Linked DNA regions of Homo sapiens: region 2 is linked to region 1. The links come from fine-mapping of genetic effects on gene expression. Tissue or cell type: tibial nerve. Region 1 holds a variant in brackets; the other region holds the start of a gene. All regions are shown on one strand. Distances are between the middles of the regions.

The links. PIP is the estimated chance that this variant, and not a neighbour inherited with it, causes the effect.
Region 2: it holds the start of ITM2C, and the variant in region 1 is fine-mapped to the expression of ITM2C in tibial nerve (GTEx, PIP above 0.99).

What each region holds. Positions count from the first base shown.
Region 1 is chr2:230,881,923-230,890,100 of GRCh38, reverse strand. GCSIR (GPR55 cis regulatory suppressor of immune response RNA) reads right to left here and starts at 3,555. Exons shown (of 4, transcript NR_038238.1): 1 at 3,132-3,555. RefSeq lists an enhancer at 4,123-4,192. The variant C/T (reference allele first, on the strand shown) is at 4,102.
Region 2 is chr2:230,860,690-230,868,867 of GRCh38, reverse strand. It overlaps ITM2C (integral membrane protein 2C), which reads right to left and starts at 3,926. Exons shown (of 6, transcript NM_030926.6): 1 at 3,723-3,926. The coding sequence starts at 3,842. RefSeq lists silencers at 2,727-2,826, 3,617-3,706, 3,807-4,176 and enhancers at 2,610-3,266, 3,267-3,925, 4,584-5,242, 6,368-6,978.

The DNA of each region.
Region 1 (8,178 bases):
CGCTACTGTCCCAAACTTGGAGGCGCCGAGGAGCCTAGTGAAGGGGAGGAAAAGTAGAAGCATGAGGCAGGGGCATGGAGGAGAAACCCGCCAAGCTCCCCACGCGCCTTGTAGGCTTCCCATGTGGGCAGGTCTGGGATGGGGCAAGGGAGTGGTTTTAACTTCAAATGCCATCTGGAGTTTCAACTGTTTTGATAGTTAGATGTTGTAATTACTGAAATTGGATTTGTGTGAATAAAAGTTACCCAAGGGATTTTTATTATCTTGGATGGACCAGAAAAACCAAGAAACCTACCTTCAATTTCATCCAAGGTCAGAGGAGAACCCAACCCACCGACCAGGCTTGAAAAGGTAGTGGGAGAAAGAATTGTTTTCGGATTACACCCCACAAGGCTCCCGTGTTCAATAAAACTGTGACACAAACACTGGGAACAATTCTGGTGAATTTAGGAAGAAAGGAATTGATTGACGGGACACTGGGTGGCTCAGAGTCACTGGGTGGGCTGGAGAAACCACTTCAGCAATTGGGAGACCACAAAGGGAACCGCGGGCTCCAGAATGTGGAGATGATGCCACCACCTTCCTGATGCCCACGAGACTCTGTGTTGCTGTTGTCCCCTCTACCAGGATGCATTTTTCACTGTCCCCCTTCCTGAGTCACTTGTCCCTATGGCATGGTCTGGGTGTGATATGGTATGGCTCTTTGTCCCCACCCAAATCTCATCTCACATTGTAATCCCCGCATCAAGGGAGGAGCCTGGTGGGAGGTGATTGGATCGGGGGGCAGTTTCTCCCATGAGTCGTCACTCATGAGTTCTGGTTGTTTGATAAGTGTCTGGCACTTCCCCGCCGTGCTCTCTCTCTCTCTCCTGCCACATGTGAGACTAACACGTGCCTTGCTTCCCCTTCGCCTTCGGCCGCGATGGTAAGTTTCCAGAGGCCTCCCCAGCCACGTGGAACCGTGAGTCAATTAAACCTCTTTCCTTTCTAAATTACCCAGTCTCAGGTAGAATCTTCATTGCAGTGTGAACATGGACTAATACAGAGAGGAAACATCTGATTGGCTGAGCCTGGTCACATGCTTGACTCCAGCCCCAAGGGGCACTGGGAAAAACAGATTCAGCTTAACAACAGGGATATGTCCTGAGAAATGCATTGTCAGGCAGTTTCATTGTGTGAACATCGTAGGGTGCACTTACACAAACCCGCATGGCATAGCCTACTGCACACCTGGGCTATACATGTTAGCCTACATGGCATAGCCTACTGCACACCTGGGCTATACGGGTTATCCTGTTGCTCCTAGGCCACAAGCCTGTGCAGCATGTTTCTGTACTGAATACTGTAGGCAATCGCAACACAATGGTGTATCTAAACATAGAAAAATATCGTTCAAAATATGGTAGGAAAAATAAAAATATGGTACACCTGTGTAAGGCGCTTACCATGAATGGAGCTTGCAGGACTGGAGGTTGCTCTGGGTGAGTCAGTGAGTGGTTGGTGAGTGAATGGGAAGGCCTGGGACATTACCGACCACTGCTGTAGACTTTGTAAACGCTGTACATTTAGGCTACACCACATTTACGGAAGATTTTTTCTTTCCTCAATAGTAATGTAACCTTAGCTTACTGTACCTTTTTTTTCCTTTATAAACTTTTCAATTTTTAAAAACCTTTGGACTTTTCTATAATAATACTTAGCATAAAACACCAACACATAGAGCTTCACAAAGTATTTTCTTTGTACCCTTAGTCTTTTGTTCTTTTTTTTTTTTTTTGAGGCAGAGTCTCCCTCTTGTCACCCAAGCTGGAGTGCAATGGTGTGTCTCGGCTCACTGCAACATCCGCCTCCTGGGTTCAAGCTATTCTCCTCCCTCAGCCCCCCAAGTAGCTGGGATTACAGGTGCGCACCACCACGCCCAGCTAATTTTTGTGTTTTTAGTAGAGACGGGGCTTCACCATGTCGGCCAGGCTGATCTCGAATTTCTGACCTCAGGTGATCCGCCTGCCTCGGCCTCCCAAAGTGCTGGGATTACACCACGCCCAGTCCCCCTTTTTTTCTATTAAAAATTTTTTTTTTAACTTTTAAACTTTTTAGTTAAAAACTAGACACTAACACACACATGAGCCTAGGCCTACATAGGGTCAGGACCATCAGTATCACCATCTCCACCTCCACATCCTGTCCCACTGGAAGGACTTCAGAGGCAATGCATGCATGGAGCTGTCACCTCCTATGATGACAATGCCTTCTTCTGGAAACCTCCTGAAGGATCTGCTGAGTCTGTTTACAGTTAACTTTTTTTTTAATAACTAAAAAGAGTACACTCTTATTAGCAATTAAAAACACAGTGTAGTAAATACGTAAACCAGCAACATAGTTGTTTATTATTATTAAGTATTAAGTACTACACATAATTGTATGGGCTATACTTTTATATGACTGGCAGTGCGGTAGGTTTGTTTACAGCAGCATCAACACAAACACATGAGTGATGTGTTGCACTCTGACCTTACAATGGCTGTGACGTCACTAGGCAATAGGAATTTTTCAGCTCCATTGTAATTTTACGGGACCACTGTGGTATGTGCAGTCATTGTTGCCTGAAACGTCGTTATGTGGTGCATGGCTGCATAATAGTAGGTGGCTGGTGTCTCCCATCAAAACTGTTTTGGAGGGGCAAATCCTGAATACAGGAACGTGATTCAGATGATTGGCCCCTGGTGGGGAAGGGAGGGCAAAAATTAATATCTTTGAAAAGGGCAAACTGAAGTGATGACCGAGTTTACCTAGAAAATATCAAGATTACACATTCTGCCACTAGACTAAGGGAAGGTTTGAAAACTAGATTATTACACAAAACACACTATTATAGAAAAATAAAGATACCAATAAAGATACTTTGGACACCTGAGTTTGTGGCTATGAAATTCATACTCACCCCAGAGATAACGCGAGACACGAACAAAAGTAATCAATGAAAAACTGCTGGCATACTGACTGCTTGAACACTGTGGGCACTCGCTCAGTGTGGGACAAGCGTGCTGGCTAAAGTCCCTCCCCTTCCCTCCCTCCCCTCCCTGTCCTCCCCACCTCCCCCTGCCTCCCACCCCCACCCCCCACCCCATTACCTCACTGCTGCCAGCCTTCCCTTTCCCATCAGTCCTCCGTTAGGCGCAGAGCCCTGGCTCCTGCGGGGCCAGGCTGGACGTGGCTTCCAGTGACAGGGCCCTTTGTCTCACAGGTGGGAGGCTGGCGTGCGACCTTCATCGGCTCCCACGTCTCTGCCTCCGTGCTCTGGCAGCTGGAGTGGGTGCAGCATGCAGCAAGGATACGGAGATGCCATGGTGGGCCACCGTGACTGCCGACCCTTCTAGGACTGCACCCCCGTCAGTCCTGGCTGCCCCAGGCCCTAGACTCAAAGCCTCTCTTCCAGTCCCCACAGGGAACAGGGCCCCAGGAGGAGAGCAGGCTGCCCCCGTGCCCCGGGCCCTCAGAGGGTGAATTTGGACCTTTCCTGTTGTATTTTGCCCACTCTCTGACATTCCTCTTCCCCACCTTCAAAGCTCAAATGGTTCCCCAGGAAGCCTGCACTAGTCACTCTGATCTCTCCCTCCTCTGAACCCTGTGCTGCCAGGTCACATGCAAAACACGTGTCATTAAAGCTGGAAAAGACCTTCAGAATGACTTGGTCCAAACTCCCCATTTTACAGAAGGGCAAGTTGGAGCCCAGAGATGATGTTAGCCCACCACAGCTGTACAGATGCACCAGGGGACAATGGCAGAGTCCAGATCCCCGGGACCTCGGGACACAGGACTCCCTCCTTACTTCGGGGACACTGCATGTGCTGCCTTGGGTGGTCTGCTGTGCCTCCCCATGAGGGCACGTCCCATGGAAATGGGCTCTTTTTCTTTCCCAGGCAGAGAGCTGGAGGTGCCCAGGGCCCCACACCTGACATGGCCAGGGTGGGCAGGGACCAGTCCATCATCATTCCCTAAGCAGTTATTGGAGCTCTGAGGTCCCTGATAAGTAACACTCCAGCACCAGTGGGTGGTAACTCCTTCAGGCAGAAGGCTGAGCACGGTTTCCATGGAGACCGC[C/T]CAGGCTCTGGTTTCCAAGACAACACTTGCACGAGGTTACAGAGCTTCCTATTTATGTCAACTTAACATTTCCAACTGCTCTATTCTTCTGGCCAAACCCGGGCCTAATGCAAGGCCTCCATTCTAGGATGGGTGACAGTCCTCGAGGGCTGGAGGGAAGTGGCTGAGACTCCGTGCAGTTAGGTGAAAGTGAGACATTGCAGCCAGCAGGGCCTCCTCAAGCCCAGGGGCAGGTGTACAGAGACCAATACATGCTCATGCTTATGAATTATAAAAAGGTGTAGAAAGAGACGTAGTCCTACAGCTTCCTGCCATCCCTGCTCTCCAGAGGGAACTGGTGTTACAAGGCTTTGAGTGCGCTTCCAGAAATAGCACATGCACAGCCATAGCGCTATCACTTAAAAAATTCACAAACGGGATAGAGATAAATATATATTCTTGCTCTTGCCACCTGCTTTACCCTAATTATAGATTTCGGAGAACTTTACACATCAGCACAAATAGATCTACCTCATTCTTTGTAATAGCAACAAAATACTGTACTTTTTTAAAATACCAAGTCTCCAACTAAAGGACATTTGTCTTTAGTTTCTTGCTATTATAACAATAAATATGCTTGTACATATACTTTTGCATATCCTATGGAGTACATCCATAGGATACATTCTGGGCCAAAAACATTGCATTTTAAAATTTGATTTTGTCAAACTAATTTACTCCCATTACAGGCCAATGTTACAAAAAACATATATCTAAAATTCCTAAACAAAATGTTAGCAAATGGAATCCAGTAGCATAGATATAAGAAAATACCTCATGACTAAATCAGTTAGCAATATTCGCCACATTAACAGATATGCAAACATATGAATAGATGCAGAAAAAACATTTGATAAAACAATTTAATATCAATCCTTGATTAAAAATAAAAACACTTTGAAAACTAAGAATAGAGAACTTCTTAAATCTCAAAGAGTATTCTTCTAATATTTACAGCTAAACTATATTCAAGGTGAATTTCCTTTTAAATCAAGAACAAAACAAGATTTGTGGCTATCACCATGGTGCCAGAGCTCCTACCCAGTAAGATAGCACAAGAAAAATAAATAAAAGTTTTAATTATTTGAATGGAAGAAACAAAATTTACTCATAATCAGTTACCAGAATTGCTTGTCTACAAAGCACAAGGCTGGGCACTGTAGCTCCCGCTTGTAATCCCAGCACTTTGGGAGGCTGAGGCAGGTGGATCACTTGAGGTCAGGAGTTCGAGACCAGCCTGGCCAACATGGCAAAACCCCGTCTGTACTAAAAAGACAAAAATTAGCCAGGTGTAGTGGCATGGGCCTGTAATTCCAGCTACTCGGGAGGCTGAAGCAGGAGAATCGCTTGAACCCTAGAGGCGGAGGTTGCAGTGAGCCTAGATTGTACCATTGTACTCCAGCCTGGGTGATAGAGTGAGACTCTGTCTCAAAAAAAAAAAAAAAAAAAAAAATTTCCTCAGAGAACTTTGTGGAATAAGAAAGACAGCCCGGCAAGTTTGCTGGATCAATACTCAAAAATAAATTATACTTCTACACATTGGCAACAAAGGTATAATTATTAAACATCATAACAACAAATATAAGGGACATAGGAATCAATGTAATGAAAGATTTGTAAGACCCCTACTGAGGAAAGTATAAAACTATGTTGGAAGACATTAACAATGCAGATTTTAAAAATACCATGTTCATGGGTGAGAGCACTCAATATCCTGATTTCAATTCTCCCCAAGTGGATCTATAGATTTCATATAAGTCCATTAAGAACCTCAACAGAAGGCCAGGCGCGGTGGCTCACACCTGTAATCCCAGCACTTTGGGAGGCTGAGGTGGGCGGATCATGAGGGCATTGAGACCATCCTGGCTAACATGGTGAAACCCCATCCCTACTAAAAATACAAAAAATTAACTGAGCACGGTGGCAGGTGCCTGTAGTCTCAGCTACTTGGGAGGCTGACACAGGAGAATGGCGTGAACCTGGGAGGCGGAGCTTGCAGTGAGCAGAGATCACGCCACTGCACTCCAGCATGAGTGACAGAGCGAGACTCCGTCACAAAAAAAAAAAAAAAAAAAAAGAACCTCAACAGAATTTTCCATGAAACTTGGCAGTTGTTTCTAAAATGCATATGAACAAAAAGGGCCAAGAATAGGCATGGCACTGCTGGAGAGAATCAAGGTAGGAAACTTTTAGTACCAGGTAGCAAGACTTACTTTAAGTGTGGTTATGGTCCAACGGATAGACCTGATGAACAAAACAGAAAGCCCAGAAGTAGACCTTACATATAGAGAAACTTGATCCTTGCAGACATATACTGTAACTCAGTGGGGAAGGAAAAACAAAAACAGAACAAATCGTTATTCCTACCTCACATCAGACCAGGGATTAAATTCCTGGGGATTCAAAAATGTAAAATACAAAACTCTAAAATGAATAGAAGAAATTGTAGAATAATGCCTCTTCAACCTTAGGATGGGAAAGATTTCTGAAATGATATAAAAGGCCCTAACCACAAGGAAAAAGATGAATAAATTTGACTGCATTAAAATCAATAATTTCTGTTCATCAAAGTGACCACAAAGAAAGTGAGAAAGCTATGTACACGTGATGCTGTTTGTAAAAAAAAAAAAAAGGTGAGAAGGCAAGCCATGAACTAACTTGGGTAAGATACTTACCACCCATCAATGAAAATATGTAAAATATAAAATGTATAAATATATAAATAACTCCTACAAATTAGTAAGAAAACAAAGCAACCAATAGAAAAATAGGCCAAAGAAAGCAAGTCGGCATTTTACAGGAAAGGAAATTTGAGGGTTCAATAAACATGTGAAACCGGCCCCACTTTTCTAGTAATCGAGGAGACACAACTAAAACCATAATGAAATACCATTTTATTTCCTATCCATTGGCAAAAAACGTATTGCTAACATGAAGTGTTGACAAGGATGTGGAACGAGTAGAATGTCTATGCGGTGCAGCTGGAAGTGTAAATTGGTTCAATGTCTTACAAAAAACAATCTGCTAGAATTTTATGAGTTGAATATTTGCACACTGTGTGACCCAGTGCTGAGGTGCCCCAGGAACCCCATCAAAGAAATGTTCATGAAAGCGTTCTGATAGTAAAAAAAAAAAAAAAAAATCAGAAAAAAATCCAAAGAGCCATGGTTAGTCATTGTTTCATAGGTATTAAGCTGTATATTCATACAATGAACTAATATACAACAGTAAAAATGAATGAAATATTACCATAGGCTTCAACATGGACACGGCTTAAAAGGTTTGGAGGGTGGGGAAGCAAGTCAGAGAATAATATGTGTATTTTGTTACCACTTTCACAGTGTTCAGATCCAAGCAAAACTTCCTCAGGGATTCTTGGATATATGGTACAATTAGAAAGCAGAACAGAGAAACCCAAGATAGGAATTACCTGGATTGGCTAATTAGTAGAGTTTAAGATTGGCTAATTTATGGAAAATTGACATATTTTCAAGATTGTCTTTGGTTCTAAGAATAGGTGTGTCTTTGCACTAATTCAGGCATTTAATGTCCCCCATGAAATACTGAGGGGAGAGGGATGGCGGGGAGTGCTCGGATGATGTCTGAGTTTCCAACAGTTCTTGGCATCCCTGAGCATGCAAGCTGCTCCCCATCTGCAGGGTCTTTCCCTCCCCTTGAATCGGAACTGGTTTTGTGACTTGCTTTGACCAACAGAATGCAATGAAGTAACATTCTGGGATTTGTGGTGCCAGGTCTTAAAGGATGGTCAGCCTCTGCTTCCCCTCTTTTGGAGCTCAATTGACAAGCTGTAAGGAGGGCTGGGCTAGACCATTAATGGTTAGAGGCCACGTGGAGCGAGGCCCTTGGAGGGTGAGAGGCCATCTTGGTTGCTTGGACCGCAGCTGAGCTCCCAGATGAACATACAGCAGAGGGTGCGGTTATCCCACGGGGACCCCTCGGTCATCCAGCTGAACTCAGGCAACTCACAGACTCGGGAAAAATAATAAACCACTGTGTCAGGCCACTAAGTTTTGGGAT
Region 2 (8,178 bases), 21 kb after region 1:
GGACCTGGATGGAGCAGGGCCGCTGCTCCACAAAGTGCTTTCGGGCCAGGCCCTCTTGGCCAGTGGGCATCAGGACACTGGGGTAGGGCTAAGCTGGCCAGATTTGCCCTCCTGGCTGGCACGGGACCCTCCCCCAACCGCTCCAGGAGACCCAGCTCCTCCTGCCGAGGGCCTGAGACCAGGACACACTAGGAAACTGAAATCTGATCCCCAGGTATGCAGGCTGGGGAGGGGGTGACACAGGACCATTAATCAAAGGCAAATGCCAAGGAGAAAATTACAGAGGTAAGAAGATGATTGTATTTAACTTGTTTTTCTCCCCTTACAGCCCCAGCTCGTGAGCCTCTACATGCCCACATCTGTGCGTGCATGTGTGTGCATAAGTGTGTGTGTGTGTGTGTGTGAGTGCAGGCACAGGCAGGGTGTGGGGAGAAGGGGCAGGCTAAGAGGGGCATGGCCAGCCAGTGGGCCCCCAAAGGGGAGGAGGGATCCAGTTGGCGCTGGGAGGGAGTGCTTTGCTGTCCCAGGGGGTGCTTCCGGTCCAGCCCACTTCCCAAGCTGGCAGTGTCCCAGCTCCTCATTATCTCAGAGTCAAAACACCAGGGGGGGAGGCCGGGCAGCTGGAAGCCCAGCTGGCCCCCACCCCCATCCCTCCCTGGCCCACTGAGGCACTTCCTTCCAGTCTCAGGTCCACAGACAAAATCCTCCTTGTGTTGCAGTTTTTGCTCAGAAGCAGGGGCAGTGCCCACCGAGAGGGTGCTCCTGCCGCCTCACCCTGCCCCCACCCCGCCCTCACTCTGGGCCTGGACACAGGTCAAGAACTGCCCCAACGCACAATCATCTGTTCACCGCACAATCATCTGTTCACCGAGTGCTCCTCCTGCGGATCACTTTTTACATCTTGTTTTGGGCCGGGTGTGGTGGCTGACACCTGTAATCCCAACAATTTGGGAGGCTGAGGTGGGAAGATCACCTGAGGTCAGGAATTTGAGACCAGTCTGGCCAACATGGTGAAACCCTGTCTCTACTAAAAATACAAAAATTAGCCGGGCATGGTGGCAGGTGCCTTTATTCCCAGCTACTTGGGAGGCTGAGGCAGGAGAATCACTTGAACCTGGAAGTGAAGGTTGCAATGAGCCAAGATCGTGCCACGGAACTCTAGCCTGGGTAAAAGTGAGACTCTGTCTCAAAAAAAAAAATAAAATAAAATAAAATAGATAAAATAAAATAAATCTTGTTTTGGAGTCCAGTTCAGACACCAAGGAGGGTTCTGGGGTCACTGCCAGCCAGAAGAAACGTTTTAATAAGCTTTCCTGGGCATTCCCAACAGTACGGGACAAAATCTACACGCCCTGCCCTGAGAAAGCAGCCTCCTGGCTGCCATCCCTCGGCTCACAGAGCTACAGCTGAGAAATGGGCCTCCTGCCTGCTCACTGCTGGGGGCAGGAGACGAGGCCTGGCTCCTTGCCAGAAACTGGGTAAGGAGGAAATGTGCGGGTTGGCCAAGTGGGGCAACAGGAGGCCCGCAGAAGTGAACTGTTTCCAAGGCTCCAAATCTAGCAGGTGATGGGCAGAGCCAACTTGCAACACCTAAAGTCCCTCTGCACCACGCCAGGGCCTTGGGAAGCTGTGAAAGTTTACTAACATGCAGTTCTGTCCTAAAGATGCCAGGATTCTAATTCTTTCCCCAGATCGCATAGTCCTAAGCTCCCCCTTGCCAATTAGAGAGGGAGGGGACCCTGCCCAACTGACAAAGTTTGAGGGAGGAGGTACTCAGCAGGCTCAAGGCCATTACAAACAGCACGCAGGAAGATGTTGATATTTCCATTTCATGCTGGGTGAGGGGGAAGAAAGGACGCTCAATTTCAGAGCCTGATGAGAAGCCAGAAGCTAGGATGTCAGTTATGCCCCGAGATGCAGGTCTCTGTCAGACTGCCCAAACCCATGCCATCAGCAGGCTGCGGCTGGAGAATGTGCCGCTCCTGCAAAATCTGGGGGACCTTCTGATGGAGTTGGAATAACACCCTCCCACTGTCTGACCTGGTCCTCCCTCCTCAAATATCTCCAGGAAGAGGTGGCTAGGAAAAGAGATGGGCAAGCGTGCTGCCTCCTGCCCCCATCCCTGCCCCTCCCCAGGCTGAGTGGAGGGCAGCTTCCCTTCCAAAGAAAAGGAGTCTTGAAGAACCCCTTGCAAACTTTTAAAGCTGCAGAACCATCTTCTTCAAATATGGAGCGCCCCCTCCACCTAAGCTTCAGATGAAAAGGGGGGAGCTGCTCTCATGGGGTGCACAGCAACCCCCAACCTCGCCTAGGTGGTTGTTGAACTCTTGTGGCTCTGAGCCACTGGTTGCTGCAGTGACCACCATAAAAGGGCAGGGGGTTCTCAGTCTCCTGGCATTCCTCACTCAGGGTCTCTGCCCAGGCTGACACCCAACTCTGACGGCCCTCTCCGGCGCCCCCTCCTCCAGGGTCCAGGTCATCCTCTGCAGGCCCCTTAATGCCCCAGGCAAGACTGAACCTGAGCCACAAAACCTGGGGAGGGGGCTAGGCGTTCAGGAAGACTCTTCAGAAGCCTGCATCTGGAAGTGGGGAAGCAGTGGACAAAGACTTTCTCAGTCCTGCCTCAATGCGGGGTGGGGAGGCGGGGAGGACATGGGCTTGGTAAGCCACAAGACCGCTGGGGGCGGCGCCCACGTAGACACCTTTGCCAGGCACAATAAAACCTGGCTGGGCCAGCTCTCCCTCCCTCCCTGTCCCTGCCCGCCACGCGTTCTGCCCCCTGCGGGCCCTTCCCGGACACAAGGCACGCAGCTCAGACAGTTTTCCACGGCGGAAATGCCTTCTCTCCCCCCCGGCCAGAGGGAAAGTGGAGGAAGCCGGGGTAGGGGAGGGGGATGACAGGGGTGGGGGAACGCGCACAGAGCCCGGGGACCCAGGATGCAAGGGCACTGGGGCAGTTGGGAGCCCTCCCCGTGGGGTCGGGGGACAGCCCAGCGAGAGGCTGGGAATGGAGAAAAGAGAGGGGAGCAGGGAGGCCCAGACGGCAGGGCGTGGGGTGGGAAGGGGGCACCCGGCCTCGGACCCCCGACGTCCAGAGGCCGCAGCGCCGTCGGTTCTGGCTGATTTCCATTTCATCACTTTCTGGTCTGTCAATTCCGGTGCAGGCCAGCAGCACATCCTCTGTCCCTCGCAGCCCCCAATTTCGGAGGAAATCAACGGCCCCACCCTCTTCGTTGGTACCAGACCCCCCCACCCCCAATTCCCCAGCCAATCAGGTCCCACCGCCCTACTTTGGAAAAACTACGTCTAACCCTCCTCCCATCCCCCACCTGGGGACTCGACTCGCGGCTTTCCCAGTTGATTGGAACCAGACGCGTACCCCCCCACCAACATTCCTCGAACTTCTTCGGACCAGCCCCCTCCCCCTATAAGGCGGCGAGGGGGCCCCCACTTTTGGAAGAGACCTCGAGCACTTCTCCACCTGAAGACCAGAACCAGACGCCTCCCACTCTTCGGACTTCAGCTTTTGGCTGCCGCTTTAGTACGGGACTTAAGCCCCCTCCTCATTCTGGGATAAGCAACCATTCGAGACTTCCCAACCCTGCTCCACCCCGGGCTCTGGGGCCCTGACGCGCCTCGGGCAGTCCCCAGGGCCGACGGGGCGCGCCTGGGTCGTGAGCCTGGGTCCCCCGCCCCACCGCCTGAGCCCCAGACCCTCTCACCCTAGCCGGCGTCAGCAGGATCTCGGTGGCCGAGGCCGGCGCAGGGGCCGACGCCGACGCCTTGTCAGCCTTGTCGCCCTTGATGCCAGCCACGGCGGGCTGGAAGCTAATCTTCACCATGGCTGCGCCGGCCCGCGCGTCCGCCCCGCAGCCTCTGCCGGTGCAGCCTCGGTCTCTGCCTCCGCCGCTCCGAGCTCTGCAGGCACCGGAAGTTTGGATCCCGCTCGCGTCCCTCTCTCTAACCCCACCCCCAGCCCTCCCCGCCCCGTCCCCGCGGGAGGGCCCCGGCGCCCGCCGCGCCTGCGCCCCCTTCCCGCCCGCGGGGCCCGCAGTGACCCCTGCCGGGCGCGCCGCTCCGCACCTGGGGCGGGTCGGAGTTCCTTCTGCCGCTCGCTCGCACAGTCACTCACTCGCTCGCTCACTCACTCACTCACTCACTCGCTCACTCATTCATTCAGCCGTCACGCTCGGATCCGTTCTCCGTAGCATAATCCCTTCGCATTCCCTGTCCAAGGCCAGCATCCCCGCAACGCAAGTCTTTGTTAACCCAGTGTTTGCCAGGCAAATGCAGCTTCCAGACAACTCACCCGTCTCTCCTGCCCCACTTCAGGTCTTCCCCTTTAGAAACGCTGGAGCCTCCGCTCTACCTGTCCCCACGCCCCCCTCCTCCGACCTGTCCTTGGCGCGGGGAGGAGGCTTTGAGACAGGCGCCAAACTGCTGCCTCCGTCTTGCCTTCTGAAGCCATCCACGCCTCCTTCATCCTCCATCTTGCTTCTGCCTTCATTCTTTATTCCTGCAAAACCTTCCTGGGGGGTCCTGGGGTGCACGCTGGAGCCGCCTGGAGTGGAGAAGGGAAGGCCGCCCCTGCTCCCTGGCTCCTTCGTGTTGCTGCGACCTCAGTTATTGGGTGACCTCCTGAACTGCCCTTGTCTCACTCATCCAGGAGGACCCTGGCGAGAGTGGAGGGAAGACCCCCAGGGCGGGTGTCAGAGGCTCGGGTTCCACTCAAGACTCTGCTCCTCCCAAGTATCACGGGTACTGGGGAAGCAGGGGCTTCTGTTGCTGGGATGGCTGCTCTTGGCACTAACGCCCTGAATCTTTCCTCTTTGCTCCTGGTCCAGACTGGGCCAGGGACAGCGCCCAGCAACACACACAGGTTGTGCTGAGTGGTCCGCTTTGGTTCTGCTGTTGGGCTGCCAGTGGAGGGCAGGGGAGTCCGTCCGCTTCTTGAGGACAGTCCGGGGTCCTCCACTGATCTCTCTTCTCACCTTTCAGGTCTTTTGCAGCTGCCTTGGGCCCTTAGCGCCCACGTCCCAGACCCGGACCTCTTGGCTCAGATCTTGGATGAACCTAGCAACCTTGAGGACAGACAGGTGGGGAAAGAAGAAAGTCTAACTGATGCTAAGGCCACCAGCCTGGGGAACTGGGGGGAGGGAATGGGGAGGTGGAAGAAGACAGATGGTTTGGAGGAGACGAGGAGGAATCTGGTTTGGCACAGAGCCAGAGAGGAAGGTGTTATGGACTACCGCTCATCACCTGCTCCAGATCCCATGGGAAACCTGGTGTCTGGAGAAGGCAAGCTCCACGTCTTGCTTAGGCCACACCCCCAACATGCATTCCTTCACTCAGTGTTTTCCAAGCACCCCTGTGTGCCAAGCATTGTGTTAAGCTCTGTGGCAGAAAACAGAGATGCCCAAGACACAACCCAGCCACCAAGGATGTGGTCATGTGAAACCTTCTATGAGTGGCATTCTTTCACGTGCATTCAATTATTTAATTTTCATCACAGCCTCTGTGACCTACACATTAGCCTCATGTTAATAGTGATAGAAGGTAGCATGACTAAACCCAGGGTCGCAGAGCTGGTTTGGCACAAATCTCTGGTCAGCAAGACAGGGCCACCTGGGTGAAGCATCCACATGCCTGAGATTGGCAGGCGAGCACCCCACTTCCCCTGGAAGGCCTTCCCAGACCGGCTGGGATAAGTCCCTTTCCTGTGCACCTTCAGCACTGTGCACATCCCCCTCGGGCCTCTCCTTACGCTTGACCATGGACTCAATGCCGGCCAAGTGCTGGGCGTACAACCTAGTGCAGTGATTCCTAAATTTTTTGGTTTCAGGACCCCAAGAGCTTTTGTTTAGGTGGCTTATGTCTATCAACATTTACCATATTAGAAACTAAAACTCAGAAAGTTTTAAGACACAAGAATACATATATTCCATTGGGCATCAAAGCGATGTCATCACACATGTAGTCTCTGGAAAACCCCACTGCACGCTAATGAGAGAATGAGAGTGAAAAGGGCAAATAATGACTTATATTGTTGCAAAAAATAGTTTTGACCTTGGAGACCCCCCTGAATGGGTCTTGGGGGGCACCATGCTCTGCAGATCACCTGTTCAGATGCTCAAGAATCCATATTCCATGGATTCTAAGAAACACATTTCTTCACATTTTAACATCTTGAGAATCAAGATATCTTTTACAATTATAATTGGCAGTGATTAAGTAATGTCTTTCACAAGTGATAGCATCTTATATTTGATGGAGTACAGTATAGCCAGTCAATAATCCAAGGGGAGCCAGGAGGCTGCGGGAGGTCCATGTCGCATACTGAGTTTTGTGGACTCAGGGAAGGACAGCAGGGTGAATGCGGTCGTGGTGCAGCCCAGGCTCCATGCAAGACAGGAGATTTGGGTGGGAACTGGAAAGACACAGGGTGTGGACAAGTGACAGGGAAATGAGAGTCCGCACTGGGAGTGAGGAGAGTGACTCTGGGCCAGGAGCCCTCAGCTCAGTCCAACAGCCATTCCTGCCAGCACCTGAATCCTCTTTGTTCTGTTCTTGCATCTTACCCAAGTGGCAGAGCTTCTCCTGTCCCCCTTTCTGGTTCCAGGTTCTGCTCAGGGACTGCTAAGTTCTGTTGGTGAAAGTGATACCATCATGCCCCTTGGGACCAGCATGCTACCTCCTCTTGGAGGGGCATGGTGGCAGCCATGCAAAGCGGTCCCCTTGGAGCTGCAGGGTGGGACAGCTGTGGCTTCTTTAACCAGTCATTCTCCAAGCAAGGACCTCGGCCAGCAGCCCCAGCAGCACCTGGGAACTTGTTAGGAAGGCAAACCCTTTCTATGTCTATTCCGAAACTCAGGGTGTGTTCTGTGCCCACCAAGCCCTTAGTGATTCTGATGCACACTCGGGTTTGGGAACTGCTGCTCTGTCACTCTGTCCACACTCTCAACGGCCACATCCTGCCCTCTCCAGACTGCTGCACACCTCTCAGCAGCTCAGCTGCTGAGGATCTGGAAGCCATGGCTTTAGGTGGCTTATGTCTATCAACATAAGAACGCCCTCCTGCCTGCCAGCACATCCGCCCCCATCCACAGCTGCCCTTCTGCCCACTGCTCCTCCTGCCACTCGCCGCGGAAGAGGCGTCTGTCTTTTCTCTCCAGCCACTCTCTAGATGAGGATTCCACCCCTCCCCTCCTATCAGACACCTGAGACATCCATCAGCCCCCGCCTCCTAACCTTTCAGCTCTTCCTGTCAGCTCTGAAACATGCTCGTATTAGCCTTAAAACAAAAACAAACCCCTTCTTTGACCCCACGTCCTCCTCCACTTGATACCCTGTTTATCTTTTCTTCTTCTTAGCCAAACCTCTTGAAAATTCAGTCTCCATTTCCTTATCACTCCCTACACTCATCCTACCTCAATCTGGCTTCTATTCCTCCACCTCCACCTGGCTGAAATCTCCAAGCTGCTTTTCAGTCCTCATCTTCCTTGCGTTGATTTTGAGCCTCTTGGCTGAGGCCTCTCCACTAACTCTTCCCTTCCCTCATCAACTCTGGTGTGATTGGCTCCAGTGGGAAGGGCTGTTGGAATCAATCCTGCAACAGTTCACTTTGAAAATAAAATCTCAGGCTGTGCACGGTGGCTCCTGCCTGTAATCCTAGCACTTTGGGAGGCCAAGGTGGGCGGATTGCTTGAGCCCAGGAGTTCAAGATCAACCTGGGCAACATAGCGAGATCCCCGTCTCTAGTTAAAATAAAATCAGAAATGAGAACTTTTACATGTATTTGCCTGTTTCTCAAAATTTAGAAGTTGAATGTTGTTTGCAAAGATATCTAGTTTATTACAATTTAAAGCACTGGTTATGTAAGACTTATGGTTGTAACAAATCCATAGAGGGTCAGTAGATTAGCTTTCTGGAAATGTAACGGGCTCAGACAAGGGTGTGCCCATTGTCCTCAGAGTTCTTCTCAAGGAGAAGTGTGCTCCATCAATCACATGCTCTGAGTAAGGGAGTGGGTGAGTTTGAGATCCTGTTCTTCTGACAAGAGCAGCAGCTATCTTCAGCTCCACCTCCCCTACCTCCACCTGCCCCCTTCAGAGGCCCCTCTTTTCCACTGAGGAGCTAGCTGAAAGCTAAGTGTTGAAGGTAATTAAAAAAAAATTTTAG